Regions from separate parts of the Homo sapiens genome. Here region 2 is linked to region 1. Evidence: fine-mapped expression QTL. Tissue or cell type: lung. Region 1 holds a variant in brackets; the other region holds the start of a gene. All regions are shown on one strand. Distances are between the middles of the regions.

Region 1 (8,101 bases):
ACAAGGAGTTCCTGTGTGGGCTGGGCAGGGGCATCAGCTGCTCTTACTGGGGGAGGATGGTAGTGATGCAAACACAAGAGGTAGGGTTGGCAGCCGCACCCCTTGCAACTATCAGGGCAGCCTTGGGGCTTTCACAGGCGTGGTGAGGACCTGTCCTTGCGTGTTTCCCTCTTACCATGTTACCATGGAAACACACCATGCATGGACCTTACCCTGCGGATATGCCCCCTACGTGGCAAAAGGGATGTGCGGATGTGAAGGACCAGGAGATGTGTGACAATCCTGGGGGACCCAGGTGGGTCCTAAATGTCACTTCAAGGGTCCTTTTAAGAGGAAGGCAGGTGGCCAGGCTTATGCCTATAATCCCAGCACTTTGGGAGACCGAGGTGAGAGGGTCACTTGAGGCCAAGGCCAGCCTGGGCAAAATAGCAAGACCTCGTCTCTACAGAAAAAAATTAAAAATTAGCCGGGCATAGTGGCGTGCCCCTGTAGTCTCAGCTACCCGGGAGGCTGAAGCAGGAGGATCACCTGAGCCCAGGAGATGGGGGCTGCAGTGAAGCATGATGGCACCACTGCACTCCAGCCCTGCATTCAAGCGCGGGTGACAAAGCGAGACCCAATCTCAAAAAAGAAAAAGAGAGGGAGGCAGGAGACAGGTGTGAGGAGGGGAAGGGCTGCGAGACAGAGGCTTCGAGGAAAGCAGAAGGTCTCCAGAAGCCTGCAGAGGCCAGGAGGGAGCCTCCCATGGGGCCTCTGGGAGGAGCCTGCTCTGCCGACGCCTAGATGGAGCCCCTAACTCTCCTTCTGGATTTCTGACTCTGGAGCTGTGAGAAACGAACTTCTGTTGGTTGAAGTCACGGGTTGGTGGTTAGTTATTACAACAGAAACAGGAAACCGGTATGTCGGGTCGCTCCCAGCCTCAAGCCCCAGCTCTATTTTCCCATAAAAGCTAAGTTCTCACCATGAGGTGCTCTAGCTGCCAGGGTGGAGGAGGGGGTGTCACCCCACACTGATTTGTGGGCCCAGGGGTGAGGACACCTCACCTGCCACCCAGAACCGGGCCCACATCTCCCGGCGAGGCCTCCGTGGCTGCATTGCCGGCAATGACTAGGTGTTTTATGCTGAACGTTGAAGATATTTTCCACTGGAGATTTAACACGGAACATCAAGAACCATTGAAATCACTCATATCAATTGAAGATACAATAATTGAACCCCATAAAGATTACTGAGAAGCTGGTGGAGCTATAAGGAGAGGCATAAATAGAGATAAATTGGGCCCCCTCCACCCCCCCAGCCTCCCCCTGGAAGGAGCTCATTAGAGATGCTCACGGGGCCACTCAGTGACAGAGACCCACAGCAGGGAGAGGGGGGCCGGGGGGTTCCCACCACAGAGGGGCCTGAGCAGATCCAGAAGCTTCTGTGCATCCGTTAATGGTCTTGATCGGGTCCTTGGTGAAAGCGTGGAGCGAAGGGACCCAGGGGATGACAGCTCTGTTCTCCAGCGGCCTAGGCATCTCCTTTCCTCTAAGGGCCGCACCCCGAGCCCTGATCTGGGCCGCACACGGAGCCCCGATCATAGCCATACACTGAGTCCTAACCCAGGTCATAATCCAAGCCTCATCCTAGGCAAAGTCTAAGCCATGATTCTGGCCCCAAACTGAGCCCTGCTCTGGTCACAGTCTGAGCTCTGACCAAGGTCACATACTGAAGGCGGACTGTGACTGGAGGCTGAGTCCTGAGCCCTGGTGTCTCATCTCAGGCGGGTCCAAGCTCCAGGACTGTGGGTGCTCCCAGATGTCCACCACATCCGCTCACGCTGCCCTCTCTCTGAGCTTCTCACAGGCCGGGCCCTGGCTGGGCTCTGCATATGGAAAGAAAGGCCCCCTGTCCTCAGGGCATTTGACTCCCCGCAGGGAGGCAACACCTGAACAGTGATATCAGCCAAGTACTGTGGATGACGGGAGTCCCCAGCCCGGCTCTCCCTGCCCTCCCATGCCCAGGCCTCCAGCTCTGACCCTGAGAGCCCTCCAGCCGCCGTCTCCGCCCTCTGCCAGGCAGATCAGAGCACTGCTCCCACCTCTGAGCGGGGCCCCTGTCCTGGTCTGCTGTGTGTAGAGGCTGAGGTCGAACAGGCTGAGCACCGGGGGCCTGGGGTGCACTCCCTGAGTGGCAGGGCAGGGCCCCCTCCATGGGGCCTCACTCCTGCTTGTCATGGTTCAGAAGAGCTGAACGGGGAAGCAAAAGGCACAAAGTCAGCCTGTCTGGCTTTGCAATCTTGGCCTCCCCTCGGCTGCATGGCACAGAGAGGTTTCTTGCCATCTCAGAGCTTGGCCTGCCTAGCTGCAAGGGGATGATGACGGCATCTGACTCCTGGGCTGTGAGTGTCATCGGAGGGGACCCAGGCAATCACTGACAAGTTCCCGGGGCATGAAGCCCTCATGAAAGGGAACACAACCATGATCAGGTCCTAGGAGCGCCACACTGCCCTGGACTCCAGACCCGTGATCCTCCCATGCTGCCCCCAGGGTCTCTCAAGGGCCCACAGCCTCCCTGCCCTGCTCTGTGCCCCCTTCCTGGGCCCTCCCGCCTGTGGACCCTTCTCCGTGCTGTTCCCTCCTCCTCTCCCAGATCAACTCTCTATTTCCCGGCTCCCTGGGCACAGGTGTGAGGCTAGCAGCTGTGACTGTGCAGGGTGAACGGCTGATGCCCCAGCCACCCTCCCAGGCTCGTAAATCTGCCCTATTTCCCTCAAGCCGATACTCAGCCAGGCCGCCTGCACAATCCAATATATTTCAGTTACAAGCTGGTCTATTACCTGATTCATAACCGATCTGTCAACCTGAGAAATCAATGCATCCGTGGGATGCCACATACATAACACCTGGTGCATAATTGAATTCAGGCTCCCTGGCATCTCAGTGCATGGCAGGTGCTGCTGGGAACCTCAGCCCCCTCCCCTGGGACAGGGGTAGGGGCAGGGAGAACGTGCCTCCTGGCTGCGGCACCGGGGTGCAGCTCCGGAAGGACGTCTGCAGTTCTAGGCGTGGCTGGGTGATTCGGATCCTGGGCATCCTTGCCATTCTGTCTCAACTCTATTTGAAGAGACCTCAGAGCCTTTTCACCCAGCCTCCCACACCTGAGCAGTGGGCCCCCTCTCTGCCTGCACACTCACTGCCTCTGAGCGGCCCAGCCCCCACTCTCTGCCTGCACACTCACTGCCTCTGAGCGGCCCAGCCCCCACTCTCTGCCTGCACACTCACTGCCTCTGAGCGGCCCAGCCCATTGCAGACAGTACAGACCCACAGAGCCAAAAGTGCTGCATTTACCAGGCCCCTCCCTAAGATATCAAAATGCCAGCTACTCAGAACCTTCGGGGGAAGGTATTATTGGCTCATTGTATAAATGAGGAGTCTGAAGTCAAGGAAACGACCTTCCTAAGTTTGAACCACCAAGCTTGATTTGAAACCAGAGTCAGAACCCAGACCCACGACCTCTCGTGCATCTGAGATGAAGCCCAAGGGGCTGCTCCAGGGTGGTCAGCAGGGGCGGGGCCAGGGTGGTCAGCAGGGGCGGGGCCAGGGGC[G/A]GGGACTCCACAAACAGGAGCTTTCGGGGTCTACAGGGTCTGCATGTGCAGGGGGCGCTGTCTCCCTCTGGTTGGTGTATTTGTGGGGCAGAAACTCAAGTGATTGGGCAAGACCCTGCCCGTGTCCAGCTGCCACGTGGCCTTGGGAGGTCTCCTGTCCCCTCCAGTCCACAAGGTCATCTGAGCTCCTGGTTCCTGTGGCTGGACATCCTCGCTGACCTCACCTCTGGCGGATTCAGAGAGGCCAGGAGGTGCAGGCTGGGTGCCCTTGGCAGCCAAACCTTTCTGGAAGCCCAGGGCTGACTTCAGCTGGGTGCCCTTGGCACCTGGACCTTCTAGAAGCCTGGGGGCTGACTCCAGCTGGGTGCCCTCGGCACCTGGACCTTTCTGGAAGCCTGGGGGCTGACTCCGGCACCAGACACAGCTGGGGCTCCCCTCCCTCATCCCGCCTCGCACCCTGTCATTGATTCTCCTTTTCATGATCGTGGCACCCACGATGGAAATGGCATCTCAGCTCCTGCAAGGATCTATACCCCAAAATAGCAAAATAATTCCCATGGTGCGAGAATGCTTCAGACAGAGGCATGCGGGCTGGGGTTATTGGGGCCATGTTTCCACATGCACCTAATGTATGGACACATCTATTCCTGGGGCCGCCAAATCAATCCATGTGGAAGCCTGGGGAGCTGTGCGTCTCCCATGTGTCAGAGCGTGGAGGGAGCGCCGGGGGTGGGGGGCAGGGGCAGAGGCCCAGATGCTGGGTCCACCATGGAGGCTGCCAGGTGCTGAGGGGGGTCATTAAATACACCCCCCACACCCCTCACTTGTGTGAAGGTCAGAGGACAAAGGACGGACAAAGGCATCTGGTCACCTCTAAAGGGCCACACAGATGCCTCTCACCCTCACCCCACATCACAAATGAGAAACTGAGGCCCGGTCAGGAAGGCATCAGGTGGACAGGGGCCAGGACCCCATTGCTTCAGGCTCTGTGAGTGGCTCCCTCGTGCCAACACATGCACACATATGCACACACAGAGACACACATGGACACACACACGTGCACAGACATATGCACACACACACAAACACGCATATACACAGACATATGGAGACACATGGACACACACACGTGAACACACATGCACACACACAAACACGCATATACACAGACACACACGGAGACACATGGACACACACACAGGCACATATGTGCACAGAGACACACATGGACACACAGGTACACACAGACACCACAATGCAGATATATGCACATGCGCAAGGAACACGTGCATGCACACATACACATGCTCACACACATATGCACACACATGCACACACATGCTCACACATGCTCACATACATATGCACACACACATGCTCACATACATATACACACACACATGCTCACACCGAAGCAAGACACACACAAACACACACAGGCACTTACACACCGGGAAGCACTTCTCAGGGGGTTGTGGCATCTCTGCCTCTGGTGGCCTCTCCTGCAGGGGTCTCCACTTGGTGGTGTTGGGGGCCCCACCTGAGCCCTGGCGAGACCTCGCCTCCCCTCTCCCGGCTACAGGACATGCCAGGGCAGGGTGTGGCTTGTTCACCGAAGCAAGCCCCAGGGTGGATGCAGGGCTCAGGGAAGCCTCTCCCAAGGGAGCACAGGCAAGCGCCCTCAGTGGGGCACAGCTGGAGCAGCGCCTCCATGGCCACATGGCTCTGGGGTGAAGCCCGGCTCTTGGGCTGAAGGCCCCTGGTACCTGAGGGCCTCCCATATTCCCATCTGGAAAGTGGGGTTGGCAATGATGCCCATCTGCACAGCCAAGCCAGTCCAACACCTGGTGCCAAGCTGGCACCAGGCACACGGGCACACAGACCCCAGAGTGGACGGTGGGATGTGAGGGGAAGGGGGAAGGACAGGTGACAGCAGAGGCAGGCTCTGAGCCAGAGTCATGCAGGACGCACTGCCCAGCACTCCTTTCCCCGAGCCCTAAACAGACTCACAGAAGGTCTCAGCCAAAGGGGCTCTAGAGACCGGGGGGCCCATCTCACAGATGGGGAAACCAAGGCCCAGGGAGAAGAGGTTCATTCAGGAATACGCAGCAGATCACAGACCCTCAGAACTCGACGGGCCTCCAGGCTGCTCCCTGCCAGATGGGAACTCGCAGAGCAGCCACGAGACAGCGGAAGGGGCAGGGGCAGGGGCAGGGGCAGGGTCTGCCGTCTTCCTCTGGGACTCGCCCCATCTTGAGCCGAACAGATGAAACCGTTGACAGTGAAGCCTCGCCTGGGAGGACTTCAGCTCACAGCACGTGGGCCGGCCTGAAAGGGAGGACCCAGGGAAGGGGTGCTGGGAGGGCTGGGGACCCGGCAGCTCCTGGCCGGCATCCTCTATGAACTGCAGCAATTCATTATCCTTCCTCCAGCTGATGAGGATGATCAGGAGGACAATTAGTCTTGGAATTACCGCGGAGGAGACCGTTAAGAGAAAAATAAATTAAAAAGAAATCCATTCGAGGTGTAATTGTAATACAGTGTATCATAGTCAATTGAATCACAAATACAAGCTGGTCCCTTGTCGATTGATTTCAGCAAGTAAACAATTTGGGTATCTAAATTGGAAACTCGCCGGGAAAAGGAGCAATGATTTGGTTAAAGGGAGAACTGAAAACGTCAGGCCAAAAATTGGTTCTAGGTGTCTGGCTGCTACAGGACTGTGCAGGTGACCCTAGATGGGAGGGAGGTCACCAGCTCCTCCCTGCCTGCAGGTCAAGGTCACCCCATCTGGAAGCTACCTAGACCCCAGCAATGTTACCTGACCTGTGACACCTTTGTTCCTGTGTCCTCCTCTGTGCCGCCCATGGTGAATGTGGCTTCTCTGTCTACATGGATGCACTCCCACCACACTGGGAGCTTCTGGGGCACAGGAGTCCTGCTTTACTTCCTATGTTGAGCCCAGGTAGGTGGGGTGGGGGTGCTTAGAAGGCAGCTGTCCAGAGAGCAAATGAATGAATGGGTGGATATGTGGGGGACAGGTGGCGAAATGAATGAATGAATGCATAGATAGGGGATGGATGGATGGATGAGTGGGTTGGTGGATGGGTGGATAGATGGGTGGGTGGATGGATGGGAGCTGGATAGGGAATGGATGGGTGGATGGTAGATGAATGGGGGAATTGGATGAATAGATGGATGGGTGAATGGGGGAAAGATGGGCAAATGTCTGGGGAATGGATGGGTGAATGGATGGATGGGTGGGTAGGGGATGGATAGATGGATGCATAGATGGGGGATGGATGGGGATGGATGAGTGGATGGATAGATGGGGCTTGGAGAGATAGATGGACAGGTAGGTGGGTGGGTGAGTGGATGGATGGGGAATGGATGGATAAATGGGAGATGGAGGGATAGATGGATAAATGGCTAGATGGGGAGGAATGGATGGATACGTGGATGGATAGGCATTGGAGGGATAGATGGGTGGGTGGATGGGTGGGTGGGTGGGTGGATGGATGGGGAATGGGTGAATAGATAGGGGATGGAAGAATAGATGGCTGAATGGATGGATAGGTGGATGGATGGGGGTTAGAGGGATAGATGGGTGGGTGGGTGGATTGATGGGGAATGGATGAATGGATGGAAGGATAGATGGATAAATTGATGATGGGGAAGAATGGATGGACAGGTGGATGGATGGATGGATGGAGGTTAGAGGGATAGATGGGTGGGTGGATGGATGGGGGTATGGGTAGATGGATGGGTAGATGGATGGGGAATGGATGAATAGATGGGGGATGGAAGGATAGATGGATAAATGGATGGATGGGGAGGAATGGATAGATAGGTGGATGGATGGATGGGGGTTAGAGGGATAAATGGATGCATGGATGGATGGGGAATGGGAGGATGGATGGGGGATGGAGAGATGCTTAAACAGACTTAAAAGACTAAGGTATTGACAGCAGGTAGCCATTTCTCCCCCTCTGCAAGAACTTTGGACCTGAGATTCCAGAGCCCTTTTTAAATCTTCCAACAAGGAAACTATTTTGTAGCAAAAAAAAAAAAAAAAAAAAAGCAGAGTCACACCTGAGGCCTCCAGAATTCCCTGGCTTCCTCCATCACCCTGAAGCAGGTGGCCTCCTGTGCAATGAAGAGGGTGCCTGAAGACCCCAGTTAGAAACAATGCCCCATGCGGAGGGGGTGCTGTCCTACAGGATGGGGTGTGTGCTGAGAACGAGGGACTTATATCTGGAGCTCCTTCTCCCCCAGGCAGAACCTATGGGGTGGTGTCTCTCATGGTTACATTCTCCACCAGTTCACATTCCCCTTCTAGGGACTGCCCAAGATAATGCCCAGTGCAGGAATGTTTCCACCAGGGGTCACAGGAATGGCTCTGCTGCCCTGGGGGCTGAGTTGGCCACCTGTCTGGTGCCACCAAGTTAACAAGCAAAGCAGCATGAAGGCAGTGGCTGGGGAATCAACCCTGATTATCAAGGATAGGAGGCCTGA
Region 2 (8,101 bases), 200 kb after region 1:
CTGCCCAAAACACACCCCTAGCCCTGCCCAAAACATGTCCCCAGCCCTGCCCAAAACACACCCCCAGCCCTGCCCAAAACACACCCCTAGCCCTGCCCAAAACATGCCCCCGGCCCTACCCAAAACACACCTCCAGCCCCAAAATATGCCCCCAAACCCTCCCAAAGCACATCCCCAGCCCTGCCAAAGCACAACCCCAGCAGAGTCAGCTCCCCTCTCCACCTCCTCACTCCACCGCCTCAACCTTGCTCTGTAAGGTGCCCTCTCCACCTCCTCACTCCACCGCCTCAACCTTGCTCTGTAAGGTGCCCTCTCCACCTCCTCACTCCACTGCCTCGACCTTGCTCTGTAAGGTGCACAGCAGTGTCCGGAGCAAGGCCAGGACAGCCTGATCCTGCTTGCCACTGTGTCCATCCCAAGACTCATGCCAGGCATGGCCTTAGCATAGTCTCACAGAACATTACACATCTCAGACAGCAGCCCTGATGGCAGGGGCAGGGGCTGGGGACTTGCCAATGACCCTGTCCAGGCAGGAACACCCAGTAGACTGTCCTGCTTGCCTGCAGTGGCCCCCAAGTGGGTTCACATCCTAACAGGACCTACCCAAGGACAAAAAAGGAAGGGCCCTGTGCAGCACAGTCCGGATTTGAAGCCCACACGGAGCCACCTTCACCCCCATCCCAGACTCAGCAAGCCGCAAGTTGACGAGAGAATCTCATAGCCTGGATAAGGCCAGGCAGGACAGCCACAGCTGGCTTCTGAGGACAGCCCTGGATGGCAAGCAGGACACCCCGAAGCAAGGCCCCTGCAGGAGACACCGCCCAACTGGGCTCCGTAGGTGAGGACACCCCGCCCATAAGGCATCTTCAGAAACCTATTCAAGGCACCTGGCTTGTCATTGTTGGTAGTGCCCTTCTTCTCTGCCAGGGAACTCAGACCAAGAAAACTCTTCCTATGGAAGCTTCCAGATGGCTCCACCATGCAGCACTAACAGGAAGGATAGTGGAATAAGAACAGCACAGGCTCAAGATCAGCTGTGAAACAACCCCTCACGTCTTCAGCAAATCCCCATCGGGCATTCACTGGGCCCCAGGCCCTGGGCCACAGCTGGATGGACGTTCAGAGACGCACAGCTCCCCGCGGGTGGGGTGGCAGACAGGGAGGTGTGGAAAGGTACAGAGTCCACCACTGGCGCTGGGGACCGTGGGGGCAGGAGGAATGATGATCTTCCCCAGCTGCCTCAATGCGCCCAAGAGGGAGAGGATGAGGATGCCCTCAGTACAGAGAGCAGAGCCAAACATAAGCATCCACACTGAACAACTGACTGTCACCTCTGGAGGGACAGCGCCGGCCATGAGCTCTCCAACTCTCTCACTCACTCCTTCTTGCCTTTAGTCTTTTGGTCACCACTGCTCCACACACAGATGCCACAAATGTTTAGACAGGGCTGAGCATCCCAGCAGAAAGCAGAGGAATCTGAGAGGAGGGCTGCTCAGGAGTCTGCTACTATGGACGATGCACAAATCAGACTTTAAAGAACACAATGAATGACAGCTGGACTGGGCCACAAGGTCAAAGTCTACTTGTAGCAAGTAACACCATCCAAACAAACCCAGTAGCCACAGAAACGCCCGTGTGCATTAAAACAAAAAGCCTGGAGCCAGACGCCATGACTCACGCTGGGAATCCCAGCACTCCGGGAGGCTGAGGCCAGAGGATGGCTTAAGGCCAGGAGTTCAAGACCAGCCTGGGCAACTGGGCAACACAGTGAGACACGCCTATCTCAAAAAAAAAAAAAGAGGTGGCTGGGCACGGTGGCTCACACCTGGGATTACAGTGTGTGGCTCAGGCAGGTTGATCACCTGAAGGTCAGGAGCTTGAGTCTAGCCTGGCCAAAAAGAAGAAGTGGCTGGGCACAGTGGCTCACGCCTGTAATCCCAGCACTTTGGGAGGCTGAGGCAGGTTGATCACCTAAAGGTCAGTAGTTTGAGTCCAGCCTAGCCAACATGGTGAAACCCCGTCTCTATTTAAAATACAAAACATTAGCCAGGCGTGGTGGCAGGCCCCTGTAATCCCAGCTACTCGGAAGGCTGAGGCAGGAAAATCACTTGAACCCAGGAGGCAGAGGTTGCAGTGAACCAAGATTGCACCAACGCCCTCCAGCCTGGGCAACAAGAGGGAAGCTTCTCAAAAAAAATTAAAAGGGCCGGGCACGGTGGCTCATGCCTGTAATCCCAGCACTTTGGGAGGCCGAGGTGGGTGGATCACAAGGTCAAGAAATCAAGACCATCCTGGCCAACATGATGAAACCCCGTCTCTACTAAAAATACAAAAAATTAGCCAGGTGTGGTGGCAGGCACCTGTAGTCCCAGCTACTTGGGAGGCTGAGGCAGGACTCCGTGTCAAAAAATAAAAATAAGAAGAAGACAGCCTAACCCCTAGCCAACTGTTCTTATGGCCAAACACCACTCAGAGGGATAAAACGCCCAACAACCTCGGAAGAAATGTGTCTGTCTGGGCTGAACAAATGACGTCCTAGAACCCGACAGTTGAGGGACTCACGGCAAGATCACCATTCTGTGTCTCAGTCTCTCCATCTGGGAAATGGGGACAACAGACCCTCCTCCCAGGGTGACTGTGAGAGTAAACTGAGTAATGAACACAGTTCCCTGGTCACCTGGCACCAGGAGGTGCTGTGACCAGTATCATTAGTGTCACCACCTGCAGACACTCACCACCCCTTTTCAGGACCGTGGAAGGATGCACCCACGCCGTGTCGCGAATGGCTTGGTACAGCCATGGTCGAGGCATGTTTGTCTTTCCTCCCCACCTGGAAGGTGACTCCCCAACTCCGCCCACCTGGAAGGTGACTCCCTGATTCCATCTCAAGCTCCAGCATCGTGACCTAGCTGTACTTCTCACCACATTCTCCTCAAAGTCTTACGTGTCCAGTGTATTTATTCATCAAAACCTGCTAGGTGCTTATCCTACTCTCGGTGCTGGGTGGGGTGCTCAGGACACAAGGGTGACACAGCAGAGGTCTATGCCACAGAGGCTCCCAGGCACACAGGAGAGACAAACACGGGAGTGCCAGGGCATTCCAAGCAGAAGGCTCTGCATCGACAGGCACACCAGTGAGAAAAGCCACAGACTATGCAGGAAAAATGACTGCACTGTCAGGGACATAAAGCAGGGACTGAAGATGTGGCAGGAGCTGCTGGCAGGAGCCAAACCCAGGACCTCGCTCTGCAGGCCATGAGGAGCTGTGGAAGAGACTTAGGGACACCTGGCTGCCCATGAGCCCCTAGACTGAGTGCCTAGGTCTAGGCTCTTGACCCAGCATCTACAGAAGGCCAGACTCAGGGGAAGTGTCCAGGGAAGGTTCCTGGATAGAGTCAGAGCAGCCAGAGGCTGCCAGATGTTCATGGGGCCAGGCCAGCAGAGGAGGAGAGAAACAGAGGTGACCCAGCCAAAACTCAACCTCCTCCAGGAAGTCGTCTTGGATTTGCCAGCCTCCCACAGCCACCTGCATTCACGGCCTGTGCTGCTGTGTCCAAACATTTGTTCTACCAGATTTCTGCTGCGGTCCTGTGATGTATGGGGTCGAACGGTATGAAAGCAGCGGTTCAGTCGGGGGAAGCACTCCAGTACTAACAAACTTCAGCTTTCTTTCAACTCAATACTGTGTCCACACTGGGAGTATCCTAAGCAACAATCCCCACCCCTGTCTCACAGGCACTAAAGATAAAACAGAAAACAAGCAGATGAGTGACAATGACAAACAAGAAATACTGTAGGGAGAGCGGTCAGAAAGGTGAGCTCAGACATACCGGAAGCGGAGCTGCCCCCAAGCCAGGAGCGAGCCAGGAACTAAAAGAAGAGGCAAGTGTGCAGCAGAGGAAAGAAAGGGCGCCAGGTGTGGCTGGAAAGGCACCTGGCAGGATGAGGGGCGGAGAAGCACCGGCGGAGCAGCACGCGCGAGGCCCATTTTGAGCCGCACCACACCGCTCACAGAACTTCCTGTGATAAGCAGTGTTCCCTACCCGCGCTGCCCCACACAGCCGCCACCAGACACGTGTGGCTACTGAGTGTCGGACATGTGACCACTGGCACGGAGGACCTGAATCCTTCACGTTAAGGACAATGTAAACAGCCACACATGCCTAGGGGCTACCACACTGGACATGGCAGAGCTTCCAGAGCAGGAGGAGTGCGCCATGAGGCAACAAACACGAGGTCCCTGGAGAGTTTCTGCGGGGGCAGCACAGATCAACATCACCTGAAAGTCCCTGGTGGGGATGTCGCAGGCCCCAGTACCCAGGAAGCACCTTCTTACAACTTGGAGAAGGGACAGAAAGGCATGGAGAGGCAAGCACACAGGAACGGGGTCCCCAGCTCAGGCTCGAAGGCGGGCTCCGCTCGTTGAGCTGCAGGGCACCAACCCTTGCACCCAGCAAGTAGGCGCTGGGGCGCTCCCCGGGACGGCACTGACCTCCAGGCGCAGGCACCGGCTGCCCGGCCCAGAGCCCACCGACCTGGGGTCTGAACAGCGCGCGAGGACCCGCCGAGGGGCTCATGTGCCCGCGGGCCGGTCCCCGAAATGCGGCGCTCTCGCGGGGCTGCGGCTCAGGGTCCCTGGCGCCCCTGGGGTCCACCCCCGGCACGGTCCCGCCCCCTCCCCTCCCCACCGGCGCGGCCCCGCCCCCCGCCCGGCCTCCCGCAAGCCCCATACCACGCCACGCCGCGGCCCCCGCCGGGCTCCGGGCCCCGCGCTGGTCCCCGGCCGCCTCGCCCTCGCCGCCCCACGCCCGGCCCCGGCCAGGCCCCAGCCCCACCGCCGCCGCCTCACCTGGGCCTCGGTGGCTCGCGGACCGCTCCGGGCGCTCACGGCGGGCGAGGCGGGCGGGGCGGGCACCCAAACATCACGTGACGGCCCCTCCCGCCGCCGGCGTGCGCGCCCCCTCCCGCACCAGCCAATGGCCGCCGGTCCCGGACGCGCGCGGGGACTACCCGCCCCAGAGGCCCCGGCGCGGAGCCGGAAGCGGCGCGGACGGCGGTCGGCTGGGCCAAGAGGCCTCTGCGGGTGCGCGCGCGAGTCGGCTGTCCTCACTTGCCTGGTGGTGGGCCTCCGTTTCCCCGTTTCCCCGTTTTGCATATGGGGATGACGGCGAAGGTGGAGGTCACGTGGAGGGCGGCGGCCCGGCGCTGAGGCGCTTCGGGAGCGGGCTCCGCCCAGCCCAGGCCGAGCCCGGACCTCACACGGGCCAAAGCTGGAGCTTCTGCGGGGCTGCGCAGGCGGCGGGTCTCGGCCAGGGCAGGGCCGGGCACCTGCGCGTCTCGCGCTGCGGGGACGGGCGTTGGGCCCCAAGTCAGGCTGCACGGGCTCCGCGTGGGGCCGTGCTCGGCCGGGGGCTGGCAGGCCCCGCGGGGACTCCGGACTCCCAGTGTCACCAACGAGGAAACTGAGTCTCAAGACATCTGAGGGACCTTTGCCCGAGGTCGCAGCCCCTCCCTGGAGGAGCTGAAGTGCAGAGTAGGGAGCCCCTTGCGGAGACCCTCCTGGGACCTCCTTCCGCAGGGGCCTGGGGCGCCTCCCTTTCCCTGCTCTGCCTGCGGGCACTGAGCTCCCGAAAGACTCCAGCCCCTCGCTCTCCCGGTGACCTGCTGGAGAAGACACCTGGGAGGAACCTGCGGACAATGGGTGTGTGTCCTTGGGCCGCCAGGGTCACCTTTCAGCCTGTTTCCCCAGAGGTGAACCAAGAGTCACACCCAAGGCAGGAGAGCAAGAGTGATGAGTCCGCTGCACCTTCTCCGGCAAGCGGAGGTTCTCCCGCCGCCCTCACTCTGTGATGCTTGCTGTGCTTGCGAGGCCTACGCCAAAGCCCTGCGGGCAGCCCTGGGCTCCCGCGGACAGCCTTGCTGAGCTCCTGGGAAGGAGGCGTGCCCTCCCCTTCCCCCACCGCCCCGCTGGCTGGGGTTCTCTGCAGCCCAGGACTGTGCATGTGTGCGCACACGGGTTCTGTGAACACGAACACAAAAGTGTGCTCGTGGACACTGCGTGGTACTGTGTGCACACAGCGCACGTCTGTGAGCTGAGGGAGTGTTCCTGGACACCAGGTGCAAGTGCACAAGTGTGTGTATGCTGGCACAAGTGTGTGCCCAGGCGCAAACATGGGAACGGTAGTATATGGCACAAATGTGTGCACACATGGGTGGGAGGGAAGAGGGGCACATGCCCACCAGCATTCCTGGGCTGGTGCTCAGGCCGGCCTGTCCTGGGCCCACCCACGCTCCTTGCCTTGGTGTATTTCAGTCTCCCCTGGGCTCCCAGGAGGCAGTAGTGTGTGCCTGTCTTGCAGCCTCGCCATGATTTGGACAGGGCTTCACTCTTCGGCTAGGACAGCTAGAGTGCAGGGAAGCCGGCTCCTAACCAGGGAGGATGCCCATGACTGCTGACCCCCCAGCTTCCACTTGAAGGGGAAGGTTCGCCAGGACCAATGCCTGTCTGAGAGCTGTCAGTCTGGACTGAGGATGCCGGGTGCCTGGCACGGTGCCCACCTCCCCTTCCGTGGCTGGCGCTGTCTGTCTGGCCGCCACCTCACTCAGCCTCCTCTGACAGCTCCGTGTTCAGGTGTGCAAAGGAGGGGAAAGTGAAGCCCTTTCCTCCCAGGGCAGACCACCTCCAGGAGCCGCTTTCTTGACCATACAAGGCGTATATGGGGCTGTTTCTGTGCCTGGACACTGCAGGGGGAATGGTCTAGCGTGGGTAGGAACCACCAGAGGAGGGGCTCCGTACCTGTTGGCTCCTCCGAAATCTGGGATGAGCCCGCCTGAGTGCCCCACAGCAAGTCAGGGAAGGTAAACCTCTCCGTGGAAGAGCCAGGAGCCCACTCCCTCAGGCTGAGCCGATGGGGAGGGGGAGGAGGATGCTAAGGGGTCCTCAGGAAGGGATGAGGGAAATAGCCAATAGCTGCCTGGGCCTAGGGCCGGGGCTCCCCTCCCTTCCCTCATCTCTGCCCCTCCCTGGAAGAGGTCATCACATGACCTCGGGCAGCTCTGGGCTCCCTCCTTCCTCCAGAGAAGCAGGACTCCCTGGGAAGAACTCTGGTCCCACCCCTTGGCCAACCAGTGAGACCAACAGGGTGAATAAGTGGGATTGGCCCCAGGACGCTGAGTTCTGTTACCTAAGGGGGTGGGGGTTGCCTGGTCCTCAGCTGGCACCCCCCAAATTGGATCTACCATTCCAGGTCCCAGAGGGAATGTGGGCAACAAGGTTAGGGGGTGGTTCCAAGGCCTTCGGAAGGAACGTTGAGGCAGCACCCACTAAAGCCAACCTCAGAAATGCTCCCTCTCTGAATAGTAGCATGGACTTCTCAGGGTTTAAGCTGAATTTCCAGGTCAGTGTCAACCTATGGCTTTGTCGTGAGTTTCCCCACCCTCCCACCCTTCCTCTCTACCCTCTGCTGCCTGGCTTCAATGTCACCTGCTCAGGAGACCATCCCTTGCTCCCCTGCAGCCCCTGCCTGGACAGGAGAAGGCCTGTGCACCTCCTGCTCTGCTCCCAGCACAGCTTCTGCTCCAGCAAAGCCCACGGGCACTCAGTCCTTGATTCCTGCACCCACCAACCCCGCCGAGCCGCCCTCACTATTACCCAGGCCTCCTTTGTCCCTTAGCAACAGAACCCCAGTTTTGTTCAAGGCATCAATGTAGCCAGCCTCACCAGCAGCTGGGCCAGCTGTGACACTGTTTGCCCAGGGGATGACTGCAGGAGGCACAATCGAGCCTCCTGGTCCTTTGGAAGGGGCAGCTGTGGCCACCCACCTCACTGACAGTCTTCCTTTCTCCTGGCTCCAGCCTGAAGTGTGGGCACGGCATCCCGAGGACAGCAGCCATGTGGCCAGCAAGGGGCAGGGTCCCAAGCTGAGGATGTGAGCAGCTGCCTTGGTGCCCCAATGGCACCGTCAGACTCATCACCATGGGGAGAACAAGCCCCTGCTCCCTTTATGGGTCTGCCTCATTGGATTTCGTCAGGTTTTCTGTAACTGAAGCCAGTGCCACTTCCATTGTAGCTGATTTGGGCTCCTAAGCTCACGGGAGTGGG

What was found. PIP is the estimated chance that this variant, and not a neighbour inherited with it, causes the effect.
Region 2: TSNARE1 starts here. The variant in region 1 is fine-mapped to the expression of TSNARE1 in lung (GTEx, PIP 0.96).

The regions. Positions count from the first base shown.
Region 1 is chr8:142,200,325-142,208,425 of GRCh38, forward strand. LINC00051 (long intergenic non-protein coding RNA 51) reads left to right here. Exons shown (of 3, transcript NR_024378.1): 2 at 6,361-6,551; 3 at 7,926-8,101. Among named protein-coding and RNA genes, the nearest start is that of LINC00051, 6.0 kb to the left of the region's middle. RefSeq lists enhancers at 1,477-2,197, 2,918-3,637. The variant G/A (reference allele first, on the strand shown) is at 3,587.
Region 2 is chr8:142,398,255-142,406,355 of GRCh38, forward strand. TSNARE1 (t-SNARE domain containing 1) reads right to left here and starts at 4,928. Exons shown (of 14, transcript NM_145003.5): 1 at 4,850-4,928. RefSeq lists silencers at 4,487-4,626, 4,767-5,336, 5,777-5,826 and an enhancer at 5,058-5,833.